Regions from separate parts of the Homo sapiens genome. Here region 2 is linked to region 1. A link means that fine-mapping ties the variant in region 1 to the expression of a gene that starts in the linked region. Tissue or cell type: whole blood. Region 1 holds a variant in brackets; the other region holds the start of a gene. All regions are shown on one strand. Distances are from middle to middle.

Region 1 (8,263 bases):
CCTAGCGAGATGCTCACGCTGTGAGATGCCCTCAGAACCAAAGCCCACTGAGGAAGTTGCAATTCCCAGCCCCCTCCTCATGTTCTCTCAGAGCGCAAGCAGGGAGACCGGCCGGAATCACCATCCCTGTTGAAGCTGCAGCTTTCTTTCTCTTTTCACCCTTACGCAGAATTGAATGCATGTGCACAGCATGGGCGTGCGAGGCAACGCCATCCAGGCGGCCTTTGTCCAGTCCATGGAAACTGACACAGGCCTTACTGTCAGCCCTCTTTCTAGCTGCCTCTGATGGGTCTTAAAGAGTAAATTGTTCTCTGACCTTTGACCAGATCTGTCAGCCACAGAAAAACAGCCCCTTCCTTCCTGCTACCCCACAGAGATGTGTCCGCCACAGCCTGCGTCTCACAGATAGTCTTAGACACCTGGCCACACCCCAAATTCCCCGACTTCAAAGGATCTTTTCACACCAAAGATGCAATTCCTGGGGCCAAAGCTCAAATCTTAAACCATAGGGTTCCTAGTTTTTCAAAAAGATCTATTGTCAAATTACAGAACACTCCAAAGAGAAGTGACAGATGACTGTACTAAGGCAATGGGTGTTCGCAGACAATATCTTTCAGGCAGGTTTGACCCCCATCTCCTCAGAAGGGTTTAGGTAGCACCTAGCTCCGTTCCAGGCTCAGTGAGGGACACCATTACAAAACAAATGACCAGCCACCCTATCATCATTAATTTGGTGCTATTCTAGGTCAATAGAATTTAATTAGCAATAAATTTGAGTTTCTTCAATGCTTGAGGCCCAAGGATTGAAAAGTAAACTAATGAATGTGGCTATGAACTTTAATCCCAATTTTGCCATTAGATACCTTGCTGACTCCCAAGCAAGACTTTCTATCTTGATTTTTCTTATATATGAAATCAGGAGAAAAGAGATCTGTACAAGTGCATAAAAAACGAGAGAGGAAAAAAAGAACATTGAGATGCTCGCTGGCAAGGTCACTTAATTTTTCTACCCTGCAATGTGCTCTATTATAAACCTAACAGGGAGAAAGTGAGAACACTGCCTTCATTTGCATAACTACAGGGCATCTCAGGGCTCATTTTTCTAATCAGTTTGGCTCCAGGCACCAGGTAAATGGCACAGCCGAGCATGTCGCAGAAATACTAAATAACCACTTACAAGTGGAGACAGAGGAAATAGTGAGAAGGATTCAGATCTCGAGTCAAGTAGGAGCAGCTGGCAACCTGTCCCAGTGACAAAGTGCTGCTTACAGAAGGCGCTCTGCACTAAGCCAGTCCCTATGTACCATGTCACAACTGAGAAACCAGCCCTCTGAGCTCCAGCTAGCATGCTGGCTGGTAAAATATGGAGCCAGACTGTCCTGCTGGTACCTCAGGAGTGGCTGTGAGGCCCATCAAGGTTAAACATGAGCAGAAAATACATCTCAGGACTCCACAATCACTAAGCCAAAGGGAAAAGTCAAGCTGGGAACTGCATCAGGCAAAGCTGCCTCCCATTTTATTTCTAGATAAGATAGCTGCAAAGACAAAACCTACATACCTCCCTCACAATTGGCCCACAAAGAACTTCCGTGTTGGGCCCCCAGACCTGTACCCTAAAACAGTTCTGTTGAATTTCACCCTGGCAATGTAAATTGACATCTGATCTTCTCAGGTGCGGGACAAAGGACAAAACTCAAAGTCATCCCTCTGCTCGCCTGAGACGAATGCATACCTGATTGCTTCACGTGCCTTGTGTTTATGTTATCTTCTATAAAAATGCAGATTCAGTGAGCCAGACTAAGACACAAGTGACTTTTCCTCTACCCTAAACAAACATGTAAATTGTGTATTCGGTTGATCAAAGACTGATCAACCAAAGGCTGATCAAAGACCCAAAAGAATGCAATCGTTTGTCTCTTATCTACCTACACCTTTAAAAAATTTCTTCCTCTTCCCCCAGTATCCACTCCTTCCCCTTTAAATATTAAGGCCCTCAAAATCATCTTTGAGGAAAGGCATAGACCTGCCTCCCAGGTGTGCATCCTTAACGTCGGCAAAATAAACTTTCTAAATTGTTGACACCTGTCTCAGACACTTTTGGTTTACAGTGGGTTTGGGAAACTGGGAGTGTGAAGCCAGGTGAGAAATAATTATCACATCTCTTTGTTAACAGAAGAAAACAAACTCTGTAAAATACTTAAAGAGGTTTATTCTGAGCCAGTGTAAGTGACCATGGGCCAGGGAACAGTCTCATGAGGTCCTGAGAAAGCTCGCCCTAGGTGGTCCAGTTACTGTTTGGTTTTACACATTTCAGAGAGACAGGAGTTACAAGCAAAGACATAACTCAATACACAGAAGGTATACCTTGGTTCAGCCTAAACAGGTGGGATATCTTGAAGGGGCTTGGAGGGTGGGGGTGCTTACAGGTCTTAGGTAGATTCAAAGATATTTTTATTGCCAGTTGATTGAAAGAGTTAAGTTTTGCCTAAAGACTTGAAGTCAGTAGAAAGAAATGCTTAAGACAAAGGACAGTTGTGGAGGCCAAGGTTCTTGTTATGTAGATGAAGCCTCCAGGTAGAAGCCTTTAGAGAAAATAGATGGTAAATATCTCTTTTCAGACCTTAAATTTGCCAGACTCTCATTTAATCTCTCCTAGATCTTGGAAAGGCCTAGAAAGGGAAGGCTTGATTGCATTAATGGAAATGCTCTACAGATGTAAGTATCTCCCACAAGAGATGGTTTTGCAGGGCCATTTCAAAATATGTCAAAGAAATATACTTCAGGGTAAAATATTTTTATTTTCTTCAGGGTTTGCTACCTGTTATGTGACGCTATACCAGAGGCAGGAATTTGCTACCTTACTGCCACAAAGAGTCTGTTTTGTCAGTCTTATATCTCTATTTCAATGTTAATGCCGATCTGCTGTGCCTAAACTCCAACAGCAAGGGGGGGTATAACAAAGCATGTCTGAACTCCATTCCCATCACGGCTGGGAATTCAGTTTTCAGGCTTCTCTGGGGTCCTCTTGATGAAGAGCGGGCTTGTTCAGTCAGTTGGGGGGCTTAGGATTTTACCTTGTGTTTACACATCAATAGGAAACATCAAGCCACTAAAAATATTAGGAACCTTCTACAAGGTCACTAAGCACTCTGCTAGCTCCATACACCACACTGCAGCTCGTCCTTGAGCAGCAGAACTTCATTGTCAGTCATTTTGGTTCTG[G/C]AGTCCAGCTGTCCGGCTTCCTCATCCCAGCTCGGCTGTGGATGAGCTTTGTGAGCCGACACAGCTAATTCCCTGGCTGTGCCTCTGTGTCCTCCTCTATAAGCTGTGGGTGATGATGGTGACATCACTTCACAGGTTGTAGTGACGGTTAACTGTTGCATGTTAATAGACCCAAAGGCCTTAGAACTGTTTCATAATAAAACACCCAGTACCTAGGAACCAATTTTTGTTTGGCTGTTTTGAAACTTTACTAAGAAATATTTCAGGCATTCTAAAACGTTTAAAGAGTAATGTAACAACATGACACTCCCCAGCGTAAGAAAGAAAACATGGCCATCACAGTCAAAGCCCCCATATACCTTTCCCAATCACAGTCCCTCCTTCTCACCTAGAGGCAACCATCCTCCTGAATTTGATAGCTGTTACCCTATGTTTTCCTTTATACTCTTACTCCATCTAAATGAAACTCTAAACAATGAGAAAGCACTGGAAGTATCTTCTAGCCAGGACCAATATGCATGTCTTTCAGAAGGACTTAGATACAGCAACTAGCCTAGCACAAAGTATTGTTTTGCGACCGCACCCTCATTTGTCACCTTGCTTTCTGTGTCTTTTCACCTCCCTGAGCAGGGAAAGTGCTAATATTTCTAGATGGACCACTTAATGAACTAAGACATTAGTCAGGGCCCTGCTAACCAGTCTGTGCCTGTCAGGGACTCGAGCCACTCTCTGCTGACCCTGCCTGCTCCCCCTCCCTTCCAGACGGAGATGCGGCTGCAGGACCAGCAACTGGCCAGACAGCTCATGCGCCTGCGTGGCGACATCAACAAGCTGAAAATCGAACACACCTGCCGCCTCCACAGGAGGATGCTCAACGATGCCACCTACGAGCTGGAGGAGCGGGATGAGCTGGCCGACCTCTTCTGTGACTCCCCTCTTGCCTCCTCCTTCAGCCTCTCCACACCACTCAAGCTTATTGGCGTGACCAAGATGAACATCAACTCTCGGAGGTTCTCTCTCTGCTGAGGAGCCCTCAGACTGGGCGGAGGGGCTGGAGCGGAGGGCTTGGGCTGGAGGGGTGTCAGAGGAAGCTGAGGCCAAGTTACTCCAGTGGGTCTCCCGGAGGCAGGGGTCCCTGGGACTGGCGACTCAAGGGCCCCAGGACCTATTCAGTGGTGCTCTCCCACCCAGGGGCCCTGGGTGTGGATGCCAGTGTCTCTGTGACTGGCTCTTGCTTACTACCCAAAGAGCTCTGCAGAAGGGCCGCTCCAACCAAGATGTTAAAGGAGACCTGGGTTCCCACCATAATCCATCCCTCCACGGTCACGTTCCTGTTTCCTGGAATCACTGGTGCTATGAACTGGGATTCCCAAAGGGAGGCCCCCCAACAAAGCTGTCATTTTTGCAGAAGGCTGTCCCGCAAGGGCCTTGGGGGAAATTAGGCATGTCAGATGTGCCTGTCTCACGTGCTGTTGCTGTCCTCTAAGTATTGTCTCAAATTCACCCTAAGTACATGACTCAGCAACATTGACAGGGAGCTACTAGGAAGGGAAAATCGAAAGGCATGACAAATGGGCACTTGGGGACGCAGCCCCAGTGGCTGGCAGCCAGTGTCTCTGGTGAGCCTGACACTATAAGGCTGTGTAAATTGTAAATTCTGGCGTGTGCTGGGACATGTGATGGGGGCACTAGCGTAGCTTGGGTGCAACAAGCACAGATGTCCCCATTGTCTCCCCTGGCCACATGCATCTCCAAAGAGCCTCTTCACTGCCACCCACACCCCAGGGTGACAGCCTGGGAGACCACTGGTGACTGAACCAGGCAGGTCCTGAAAGCATTTTCCATAACTGAATTCTCCTGCAGGGGCGTGACCGGGGCCTCCTGGTGGATTCTGGTGGTGTCACCTTACTGCCCTCTCTGGAAAGACAATCTAGGGAGCCCAGAGGCCCATCCTGAGCCTCCTCTGAGATTTTGTGCCTGACCTAAACAACTAGTTTTAATAAGACTGTTACTGATGTGTTGTTCACTTGTTAGTAACTGATTTTTGTCCAAATGCGGAAGCCACTTGTGTAGGTCAACTACAGTGCGTAGGATTTGATTTTAAGAGTTTCTCCCTCCCAACAGGCTTGAGGATCAGCAAGTTAAGACCCCAGCAGGTTAGGGAGGTCAGTCTGGGGTCATACGGCATGGCAGGGGTCCCTCGGCCAGACCCGTAGAATCCTGAGATAAGGAGTGTTTCTGACCTTTGGTGTCATCTAGTCGAGTCCTCTCATTAGTAAAGGAGCAAAGTGAAACCTGGGGGAGGAGAAGGACTTCCCTCAGGTTGCACAGCTGTTTAGGCTATAGAATATTGATGTGTGAAACCATTATTGATAATGCCTAGTAGATCACATGTCAATGAACTTGAACCCCAAAGATGGTCGTGATGCTTTGCCAAACCCGCACACTGCCAACCCCTCTACTCTCCACCTCAGCCCCCACCCACATCTCCCAGAGTATTGCAATTCAGAACATTTGGGTCAAGGTGGAGCAAGGCACTGACAGTGGCCCCACAGGGCATGTGTCACTAATCACTGTCCCATGGTCTACGCACGGCATCTGGCTGCTCTGTCTACTGTGACTTCTTCCTGTGTAATCTCAGTGGGGCCCGTGTCCACCCACACATCGTGACCCACATAGGGGAGAGGTTGCTTTTCTTTTGTGGGCTGAGAGTAGGACAATGCAAATGAATGATCTCTAGTAGACAGAAAAGAACTTGGTCTCTTTTTTAAAATTTCAAAGAGCCAGAAGTTCTATGCCTCCTTCAAAGTAGGCAGAACAACGCAGCCAAGATCTACTGTCTGCCATGCTCTGTGCAATGAAGTCTGCAGGCCTGAGGACCATGTACTGCTGTCCTTCCTCAGAGCTCTGCACAAACACTGCCAAGTCCTGAAGACGCATTCCTTTCCTGCCAACCTCTTTCCAGATAAGCCCTTGAGGTCTCGGGCTGACCTACACACACACACACACACACACACACACACACCCCCACACACACACACACGACAGAGAACATGCCATAAACATCCTTGAACCCATGCAGGAAAGCCCATCCCATATTCTGAAAAAATGCCAAATTAGGTTTTTCTTTCTTTTTGGAAATCAGTCATTACAGTAACCGAAACCATTGGGTTCAGCGAAAATGGAAAGATTTAGCTGAATGTAGTCAGTCCAATTAAGTTGGATGCAACTGAGTGATTTAGTTGCTTGGGTAACCCAGTGCTTGCTTGCTTTCTTCATTCTCTGGGTGGAAACTAAGATCAAGACACATGTTTGGGGATAAGTTAAATGTCTGAGCTATTTTGCTCGGTTTATCCTAAGAGAACTTTATTATGGGATGAGGAGGTGACCCAAGATGAGAAGTGGAGGGGGACAGCGATGTTTTCTAAACATCGTCCAGTGTTGACTGGCTTCCTTACTTTGCACAGTGAACACAACTAACCACATTAATTCAGCTTTGTGAAGTCCCTGCTCTCTGTGGGTCTATGAGTCAGCAGCAACATTGGCCTAACCTCCGTCCCAGCCTCCTGGCTCACCACATGTGTACAGTGCTGTTTGCAGTTGTACTCATTATCCATCCATCTCTCTGCCATCCCCAAGCATCGCTGGGTGTAAAACGCAAACTCTCCACCGACACTGCCATGCGTGGTCATGTCTTGATGCCTTCAGGGGCTCAGTAGCTATCAAAGAGGCCTGGAGGGCCTGGGCAGGCTTGACGATGCCTGACCGAGTTCAAGACCCACACCCTGTAGCAATACCAAGTGCTATTACATAATCAATGGACGATTTATACTTTTATTTTTTATGATTATTTGTTTCTATATTGCTGTTAGAAAAAGTGAAATAAAAATACTTCAAAAGAAGATATCCATATAAAAATAAAAGGAGAGAAAAATGCTTGTCCTTTTAGCTTGTCCCTGTTATAGCACACACAGGATGGATGGATGGATGGATGGATGGATGGATGGATGGACGGATGGACAGATGGATGGATGAACAACAGATGGAAGGAAGGAGGGAAGGAAGATTTTTGCAACCAGATGGAGGCAGGGGAGGGAGAAAAAGATTCACCCAAATCACTGTTCTTCCTTGTATCTTCCCCTTGAGGAAGCTGCTTGGTGGTTGTTACTATCCGGAGTTCCACAGGTAAGCTGAGGTAGAATTAAAAAATGCAGGCTTGATTCCTGAGTTTGACAGAAGCCAGAGCCAAAGTAAACCCACTCTCCTCCAGTGGCCTTTTCCAAAGGTGATCATATTATGCTCTGAGATCTTATGCCTGAAATTTTTTCAGCCACTTAAAGCACCTCTTAAACCTCAAAATCGAGCATGCATGAAAGTCACCTGGGCTGCTGTTACAAATGCATATTCCCAGGAGAAGTACTGGGTTCCAGCCCCAGGGATTCTGGCTGTGTCGCTCCGGGCTTCACAGACGCCCCAGGTGATGGACACAGGTGGTCTAAAGACACTTTGAGAAACCTTTGGAAGACAAAGCAGGTGAGGGAAGGCCCTGTTTTTCACTGATCCCATCTCTGTGTTCTCAGCAAAGACCTAAGTCAGAGGGTCAAAGTGGGTGTCACTAATCCCATTTTGTGGAAGGAACCGCTGAACAACAATTGCAGATCTCTGTCCATCCCTTGAGATGATATCCCCTGTCTACACCAAGAGGAGTGCCTGTGATGTCTCTTTCCACAAAGAGCACACAGTATAAGCTGCTTGGGGGAGAGTGGGCGTGAGGTGGGTAGGGAGCAGGTTACTGGGGAATCTGCCATTGCCCTGACCATGTGGTTCAAAGGGCATTCAAGAAGCCAGGGCCTTTCCACCCTGCCGGTGGGACCACACATGCACTTTTGCAGCCCACAGGGAAATGAATGTGACCTCCAAACAAATCCAACCATTCTAAGTGCCACAGAGAAGATAAAATGTGAGACGGCGCCAGGTGTGGAGGGGGCTGCTTTTCCCAAGTGGTCAAAGCTTCCTGGAGAAGAGCTCTTCCAGTGGCAGT
Region 2 (8,000 bases), 42 kb before region 1:
ATTACTTCCAATCCAAGTCTACAATTCTGTTTTTCTATCACTCACAATATTGCTTATTTACTTAGCGTATTTGTCGGTCATCGTCTGCCTGCTTTCCTCTGCTAGATTATCAGTTCTCAAGGGCGAGGTCCTTCATCTAACTTGTTCACTAACATTTCCCAAGAGCCTAGAACAATGTCTGGTATTTAGTGGTACTAATACGTATTTATTGAACAGATGAATAAACGAATTGGGAGAAATTCTGAAAGAATATTTTAAGTTTAAATCTTTTATTTATTTATTTATTTATTTATTTATTTATTTATTTATTTTTGAGACAGGGTCTTGCTCTGTTGCCCAGGCTGGAGTGCGGTGGTGCAATCATGGCTGACTGCAACCTTCAACTCCTGGGTTCCAGCAGTCCCACCTCAGCCTCCCAAGTAGCTGGGACTTCAGGTGTGTACCACCATGCCCAGCTGAGTTTTCTTTCTTCTTCTTCATTTTTTTTTTGTAGAAGTGGGGTCTCACCATGTTGCCCAGGCTGGTCTCCAATTCCTGGGCTCAAGCAATCCCCCTGCCTCGGCCTCCCAAATTGCTGGGATTACAGGTGTGAGCTACCATGCCTGGTTGGGCATTTTTCTTGACTCATCTATTTCACAGCTTCCTGTAGGATTATAAGAGGCAATGTCTCATGCATCATGCACCAACGGAAAGAAAACTTCTCTGTAAGGAATCAAAGGGAAGAGAGAACCTCTAGGTGGCCTTGCCTTCTCTGGCCCACCCAGATCCTCCCACCATCACTGGGTTTCAGTGTGCCTGACACAAAAGGAAGTGCCATCAGAAACACCAACACAGTGCCATCTTCCCTTTTGAGTAGTGTTTCTTGATGTTTCTCATTACAAAACGATTCATTGTAGAAAACGAATGCAGGCTTACAGAAGACATTTTAAATCCTCCATTATCCTGCAGCCCAGAGATAACGACAGCTAATATTTGCATACACTCTTCCAATCTTTTTTCCATGCATACATATGAATTAGATATTGGAATGAGAAGTTTCATAATGTACACAGGATTTGGTGTCCCAGTCTTATTTACTTAGCGTTAAATCGTTAGTATTTTTCTATATGATCAAATAGCTTTTGAGAATATTATTTCTATGGCTACATACCATTCTGTGCTAACTCATTTATTTGACCACTCCATATGATTTCACTTTGGAGTTGAGGCTACTCCAACCAAGACTGCTCTTCCTCCTCCCCTTCCTCTTTCCTCTGGCCCACTCTCCTCCTGGTCCCCATCACTGATTACCCTCCTGCCCGCAGACAAATGCCAGGCAGAATGGGAGCCACAGGGCAAGACACCACCCTTGCCTTGGACAGGCTGCCTGTCCATTTGAGGCATGCCACAATTCCCCCATGAGAAAGCATCTGCACTCCCAGAAATAGAAGCCATAGGTCAAACAGGGAGCCAGGAGGTAGAGGTGGGACAAAGCATTTCCAGATGGGGCTGAATGGCCCATCCAAAAAGATCTTGGAGCATTCACCACGTGCCAGGGCCATGGGCACACCAGTGAGCAATGCAGCCAACTAGGGCTCAGCACCGGGGCTGTGGTCAGAAACAGCCAGCACCCAGAAGGATGCTTTATCCCCAAGTCCAGATTGAGGCTCCTGCTTGCAAACATGGTTCATGCCCTTCCGGAGCCTACTGCCTCAGAGGGAGACACATACTAATCAAATAACCTCACAGGTAAACTTGGAATTATAACTGGTCCATGAAGGACATAAGGCAGGGGGCTGCCAGCACCTGTAACCTGGGGTTCCCTTAGGAGGCAGAGCTGCAGCAGCCTGTCGGGAGGAGCAGGTGCACAATGGGACTGGAAGAGGGTCTGTTGTCTGGGGAGCAGGGTCTGTGCAAGACAAGGCCCTAGAGACGGACAGAGGCCAGCCAGGCCCCTGCAGCCAAGCTAGCTGTTAATCCTCAGAGGACTGGGGGCGTTGAAGGCCTTTAAGCAGAAGCAGCTGAGACTGGATTTCCATTCTTAAGAGTTTCCCCTGTTTGTGGAGGAGTAACTGGCTTGGGAGGCGCTGAGAGAGGGTAAAGGGAGATCAGTATGGAGACTGCGTGCACGCTTGGACCCGGGTGGCAGGTCCCAGAACTGGGTAGGGCAAGCTGCTGGTGGCTTGGGTAGGGACAGTGGCAGCGGGCAGGAAGAAGGAAGGAGTGATGTTTAGGAGCTGGAATCAGAAGATCTGGATCAAGGCTGTGACTCTCCAAAAGATGCTTGTTAATACACCCGCTAGCTTAGGACCGTTCCCTCATTAGCATGACTAGGTCTGTACTGGCAAGATGTCTCCTTAGACGACGTCCCTCAGAGGACCTTCCAGTGAAGGTCAGAAAGGAAGGGAGTAGGTCAGGGCTGGATGCGGAGTTGCAGTGAAGGACGCGGGCACCAGAGGGCAGCACGAGTGTCTCGGGCCCCTGCAGGGGCTAAGACCCCACAGAAGGCCCGACCAGCCGCGCACCTGCCTGGAGCCTGCGCCAGTCACTTTGCAGCCCCACCACTCAGCTTCGCGTCTGGCCATGTAGGCGGCGCCTGCGCGCACGCCCAGGGCTATCGTGAGAATGGCAGACTGGAGCCCTTTGAAAGACGCTTCCAGCCCCGGGCATCTAGGAAAGGTGCTTGATGAGGTCTGGGGTAAGAGACCCCCATCCAGTAACCAGCCTTGGGGCCTCCAGTGTCTGGCCTGGGCCCCTCGTCAGAAGCTGGGACTGGTCCTGAAGACCTGCGGTCCGGGCAGCTCGGGCTGCTGTCCTGCCTGTGCCTTAGGGTTTGCAGCTCTGGGCTCTGATGCAGCAGGGACTGGGTCTTAGAATCTAACGACAGCCAGAGGTGGCCGATGCCGCGCCCCTGGCGGGACAGACACCCTGTGGTTAGTGGGGCAAACGCTCGCGTCTTTGCACCTCAGTTTCCTCATCTGGCAGCCAGAGATGCCTACACTTGCCCTGCTGGGTCGTTGGGGGGCGTGGCCCACGGTAGGCGCTCGCGGGCAGTCGTGGCCGCGGGTCCTATGAACTCCTGCCGTTTGGGGGTGGGTGAGGCCCTGGGCGTGGGGTCCCCCTGCGCCCTCCATGCGGACAAACTTCTGACAGTGGCGCAGTCACGTTGCCACAATTGGGGGAAACTGCCTTGGTTTCGGGTTTAATGAGAAAATGGATGTTTGGGTTTGGTTTCATCTGGGGTTTGGCGAAGGCATGTAGTTCCTCTCCACTCGCGGGGGCTGCCCGGGCCGGTGAACCGACAGGGCGCTAGGACCCGGGGCGCGCTCGGACCCGGGGCGAGAACGCGAGGCCGGGATCGCGGTGAAAGGCTCGCGGCGGAGAGCTCGGCCGTCGCCAGGCAACCGCCCTGACGCAACGCAGGGGGAAAAAAAAAGTCCTTTCCGAAAGGAGCAGCGCCGAGAATTCACCGGAGCTCGGGGAGGCGAGGCGGGAGCCCTGAGCTGAGGCCGGGCAGCGCGGACCCGCGCAGGAGGAGGCGGCGGGGACACCGGCGAGTCCCCAGCAGGGCCCCTGGGCTCCCGGAAGGTGGGTTCGCGCCGGCGGCGGGGACTTTCCCAGGGACTGGGAGGTGTGGCCGCGGCGGGCGGCGCAGTCTGGGCAGGGGCTGAGGCGTCGCAGGTCCCCAGCGCGAGCACTGGCCCGGAGCAGCCCGATCCCAAAGCGCCCTGGAGGGGACGCGCTCCTACCGCCCCCCCGGGAGAGGCCGCTCATGCGCTCCCGCGGGTTCGCTGCCCTCCCAGAGGAGCCGGGCAGCCAGGGCTGGACTTCATCTCCTAGCTCCCTGCTGGCCGTGTCCGGGCTCGGATTCTGGGTGGAGGTTCGGGGTCTGCCGTCTGAGAGGGAGGGCCGCACTCAGCCTCTCCGGGTCCACTCCCAGGCGGCTGGTGACCTCCAAGCCCAGCCTGGCTCCTGTGTATAGGTTCAGTGAGATGGAAGTTTCTGTCCCCACGGATGCGGTCCCTAACTAATGGGAGGTGGCCCAGGGCACCTGGACCCAAGGGTGCTCTAAGGACCCAAGCCAGTGTGACCTGAGGGAACGGCACAGCCGCAGGGGCCCCCGGGAATGAGCAGGTCAGCCGTGAAGGTGGGCACCCTGAGTCACCGAGACACCGGAGCACAGACGGCGGGGGGGAGGGTGTCTTCTTCAGCCAAGTTAGGTTGGATGTATAGGTTTTCTGCACACCCGTTACTGCCTGGTTTTTATTCCCGGCGGGGCTTGGAGGGAATTCTGAGGACTGGGACCTCCTGGGAAGATCTGGAAGGAGGGTTGACTCTAGGTTGGGGGCTGGCCACTGCCGTATGCCTGCAAGCAGGTTCTCCCAAGTCAAGTTTCCACAAACTCCCCGTCATTGCTGGAGAATCCCAGAAGATGAGATCACGTCCTATCCACAGGGTTTTCACCAAGGGGCACATGCTCCAAAGCAGCTTCCCACTGACACAGTAGACACAGTCCTGCCCCTCACTAAGCTCGGGATGGAGCGTGGAGAGCGTGGACAAAGTCTTGGGAAAGCAGAGGTGCTGTGGCGCCTGTTGCCTGAGGGCGTTGGCAGGATAGGAACTTCTGCAGCGTGTTTTTAAGGAGCTTGGAAAGCAGCCATGGGCTGTGCTTGGAATGGATAAAGATGACAGCTCTTCTTTCTTGAGTGCATTTATGGACCATGCACTACTTAGAAACCCTTCGCATCCCTTGGTCACTCCATCCTCCCCATCAGTCTTCAAGGAGACTCTATTATCCGTTTTGCCAATGGGACTCTAAGAAATTGAGTGACCTGGTGTGGCTCCCACACCTGGTGAGAGAGCAGAGAGTCAGCCTCACGTGCCTGACTCCCGGGACAGTGCTCTCAGACGAAGGCTGCTTTGGGAAATCTGAGGCATCTAAGGCCCAGAGAGGGGCAGAAACCACTCACGCCCAGATGAAATGAGAACTGTGTCGTGGGGCTCATCTTATGACCTGAGAAGGTCCCCTGCCTGCTTGAGGAACCCTGTGGAGCCAGGAAAGCCATTTCTTCTATTAGGAGCTTGCAAGGCTGTGTTGTTGGGCCTGGCCGGCCTCAATTCTTCCCACCTGAAGCAGAAGAAAGGGTTGCTCCCCCACACCCTGTTCTCCTCCTTGCCTGCCCAGAGCCCCCAGACTCCCTGCGCACTTGCTCCTGTTCTTCTGGTCCTCGCAATTACATGCATGGATTTCTACTAAATTGCCAGTCCCCGCCTTCCTGTCTACTAGCTTGGCCCCCCTCCAGGAGGAACTCTGGCAGGGAAATAAATTAAGGCCATGCCTAACTATTTGCTGAGAGAGAGCCACAGAGCCCCAGGCCAATGAGGAAGAAACTACTTGCTAGGCTTCTCACACCCTGGCTGCTGTGTTCTCTAGGCAAATCTTGCTCACAGAAAGCCCCGTTGGCCCTACAGGAGCCCCGGTATTCCCAGAACCCTTTGGGAGCTGTGCTTTCCCAAGGGACTTGAGCTGCTTGCAAAGGCGGAAAATGAGTAACTGAGCACTTTGCTCCTGGTTTCCAGACCAGGGGTGGGAGAGCACGCACGTGCCACTAACTGGAAATCCCTTAGGATTAGCCTGGCTGGCTGTTACTGTGCAAATGCACCCCGAGACTTGGATTGCCATGTGGAGACAGGAAGGAAAAGCACAGACTGAAACAGACCTTGAGGGGCTGAGGATGGGCTACATGGTGGGCAGGGGGAGGTGGGGAGCAGGAAGGATGGGACAGGGTGGGAAAAGAGTTTAGGAGGGGCGGCAGGTGAGCCTCACTGGCTCTGCAATCACCTGTAGAGTCTGAGCTGCCACCGAGGGCCGTGTTGCCAGGATGAGTCAGGTAGGCCGCAGGTCTCAGCTTTTCCCTGGTTAGGACCGTTGCCCTGTCCATTAAAGGCCAACTCTTCCCCACCCTGACCCCTACCACTTCTCTCTGGAGAAGTGTTGGAGAGGAAGGACAAGCATGGAGAAAGAAGGTGAGCAGAGCAGTTCAAGGGGGGCTGCTCCCACCTCACCCCCTTTCCTTCTGCACACTGCCTGCCTGCTCATCTCTGCCAGGCAGCATCAAATCTCATCCATCAGCCACTCTCGAGAGGACTTTGCTGAGCAGTAGCCCAGTCTCCCTGTGGGCACAGCCGTCAAGGGGGCCTCTCTTCTCTAGCAGCAGCTGTCTAGCGTCAGGCTCCTCTCCATGCCAGGGCCCTGCCACGTGGCCTTAGCAAGCACATAGTAGCTCCCCCCAAGTTGTCATCTATAGTGGGGGGTGGCTTTGCTCCCCCACCACAAAGCTCTCTTCACTGAGGAATTTCCAGAAGGTCCCTCGGGTGCCCATAAGTGTGATCCTCCTCCCCAGCGGCCTTTGCAGAAACCTGAAGAGGATGAGGGTTCACCTTCTCCCACTGGGGGCATGGACCAAGCCCCCATTTCTTCAGTGTGGCCGGAAGTTCCCTCCAGGGCATCCTGATCCAAAGGTGGAAGCTGGCAGTAGATGCCCAAGGGCTCCCTCGCAGGGCTTGTCCCTTGGGCATCCCTAGAGGGACAGGCCCAGGTCAGACCCCATTTTCCAGGTCCAGTGGCAGGTATGGAAAGAGCCTAGGCAGTGACTTGTGCACTGGCTACAGTTCCAGGCCTTCTCGAAGGCTGGGCAGTGTTTCCTCATTCCAGGAAGCCAGCGGAGCCTCTGCGAGCTGGCTGGGCACAGCAGCCCCTAGGTCAGCAGGCTCATGCTTAGGGTGGTGGCCACCCAGGAAGGTTCTGGATGAGGGTCTTTGCCTTAGGGACCTGGCCCCCACTGTCCACCATCAAGTTGAAAGTGACACTACCTCCCTAGTCTTGTGATCAGCTCCACGCACTTCGCCCTGGAAGTCCCATGCCAGGCGTGAACTGACCTAAGTCCCTCCAGTCACAAAGGCACTTCCCAAATTTGGTTGTGTGGCTGCTGCTATTTTGTTTATTTGTTTGATAGCAGCCACTGAAAACTTGGAGGAAGGTGAAGCCAGCCTCATTATCAAGTTTGAATGAAAGCAGCCTCAGAGCAAATTCTGCCAGACGTACACATTTTTGGACAAATATTTACCTGAAACAAGTCCAGCGGAGTCCATACAGCCTGTCCTGTGGGCTCGGTGAAGCCCAGCAATCTGCTCTCTGCTGCCCTGACCACACCTCCCTGGAGCTCTCATGGATTCTTTTACCTGCTCTTTCCTGAGTCAAGAGTGTCTCTGAATTCATTTAGCCAACCCACACATCTTGAATACCTCTGTCTTTACCAATGAGAACGCATTTCTAATATTTACTTTGCTAATCATCAAATGCCCAATGCTGACCAGAGATAAAGACGCTGAAGTGCCTGTCCCTGCTGCCTCTGGAGCAGATGCTTTCTGCTTCGAGGCAGTGGCTGCGAGTGGGGTAGGGGTGGGCGTTGCTGATTTGAATACATCTAGGTTGTAGCTGGCATAATGAAACCACACAGAACAGCCCACCATCTCTGCAAAGGAGTTTAGGATCCAAATGCACCACCCTACCAAGGAAGCAGAAGGTGAAGGCCGTGCCCTCAGGGAGCGTGCAGTCTGGCGAGGTTGCTGATGCAGTAGAGTCCTGAGCTCACAGTAAAATGCTGTTCTGCACGCTTCAGTTAACTTTCGCAGTGCAGGAGCCATTTCCCAATTCGATGGACCAAGGAGAGTGACAGCCAAGCACAGTCAAGAGCAGGAGGTGACAGTCGTATTAGAGGTGTAACTAAAAATTCACGTAAACTTGATCTCATTTGGTCCTTCCAAGACTGTGAGGTACGATCCATTACAATCCTGTTTCATGGATGTGGAACCTAGGCCTAGGAGGGTTGAATCTGTTGATCAAGGTCATAGAACTAGTAAGTGGCAGGCTGGCTGTCAACCAACCCACGTCCCCCGACACCCGGCTCTGCCCTGTTCTAACTTGCTCCATCCCTTTCTCCTGCTCCTGATTCCTTTCC

Evidence for each region. PIP is the estimated chance that this variant, and not a neighbour inherited with it, causes the effect.
Region 2: it holds the start of FAM167A, and the variant in region 1 is fine-mapped to the expression of FAM167A in whole blood (TOPMed, PIP 0.96).

What each region holds. Positions count from the first base shown.
Region 1 is chr8:11,420,358-11,428,620 of GRCh38, reverse strand. FAM167A (family with sequence similarity 167 member A) reads left to right here. Exons shown (of 3, transcript NM_053279.3): 3 at 3,985-7,145. The coding sequence ends at 4,248. The region is part of intron 3 of FAM167A-AS1 (FAM167A antisense RNA 1); the gene reads right to left. Among named protein-coding and RNA genes, the nearest start is that of FAM167A, 42 kb to the left of the region's middle. RefSeq lists a silencer at 2,929-3,120 and enhancers at 3,010-3,552, 3,553-4,096. The variant G/C (reference allele first, on the strand shown) is at 3,223.
Region 2 is chr8:11,462,193-11,470,192 of GRCh38, reverse strand. FAM167A (family with sequence similarity 167 member A) reads left to right here and starts at 3,440. Exons shown (of 3, transcript NM_053279.3): 1 at 3,440-3,567. RefSeq lists an enhancer at 1,508-2,277 and a silencer at 3,523-3,732.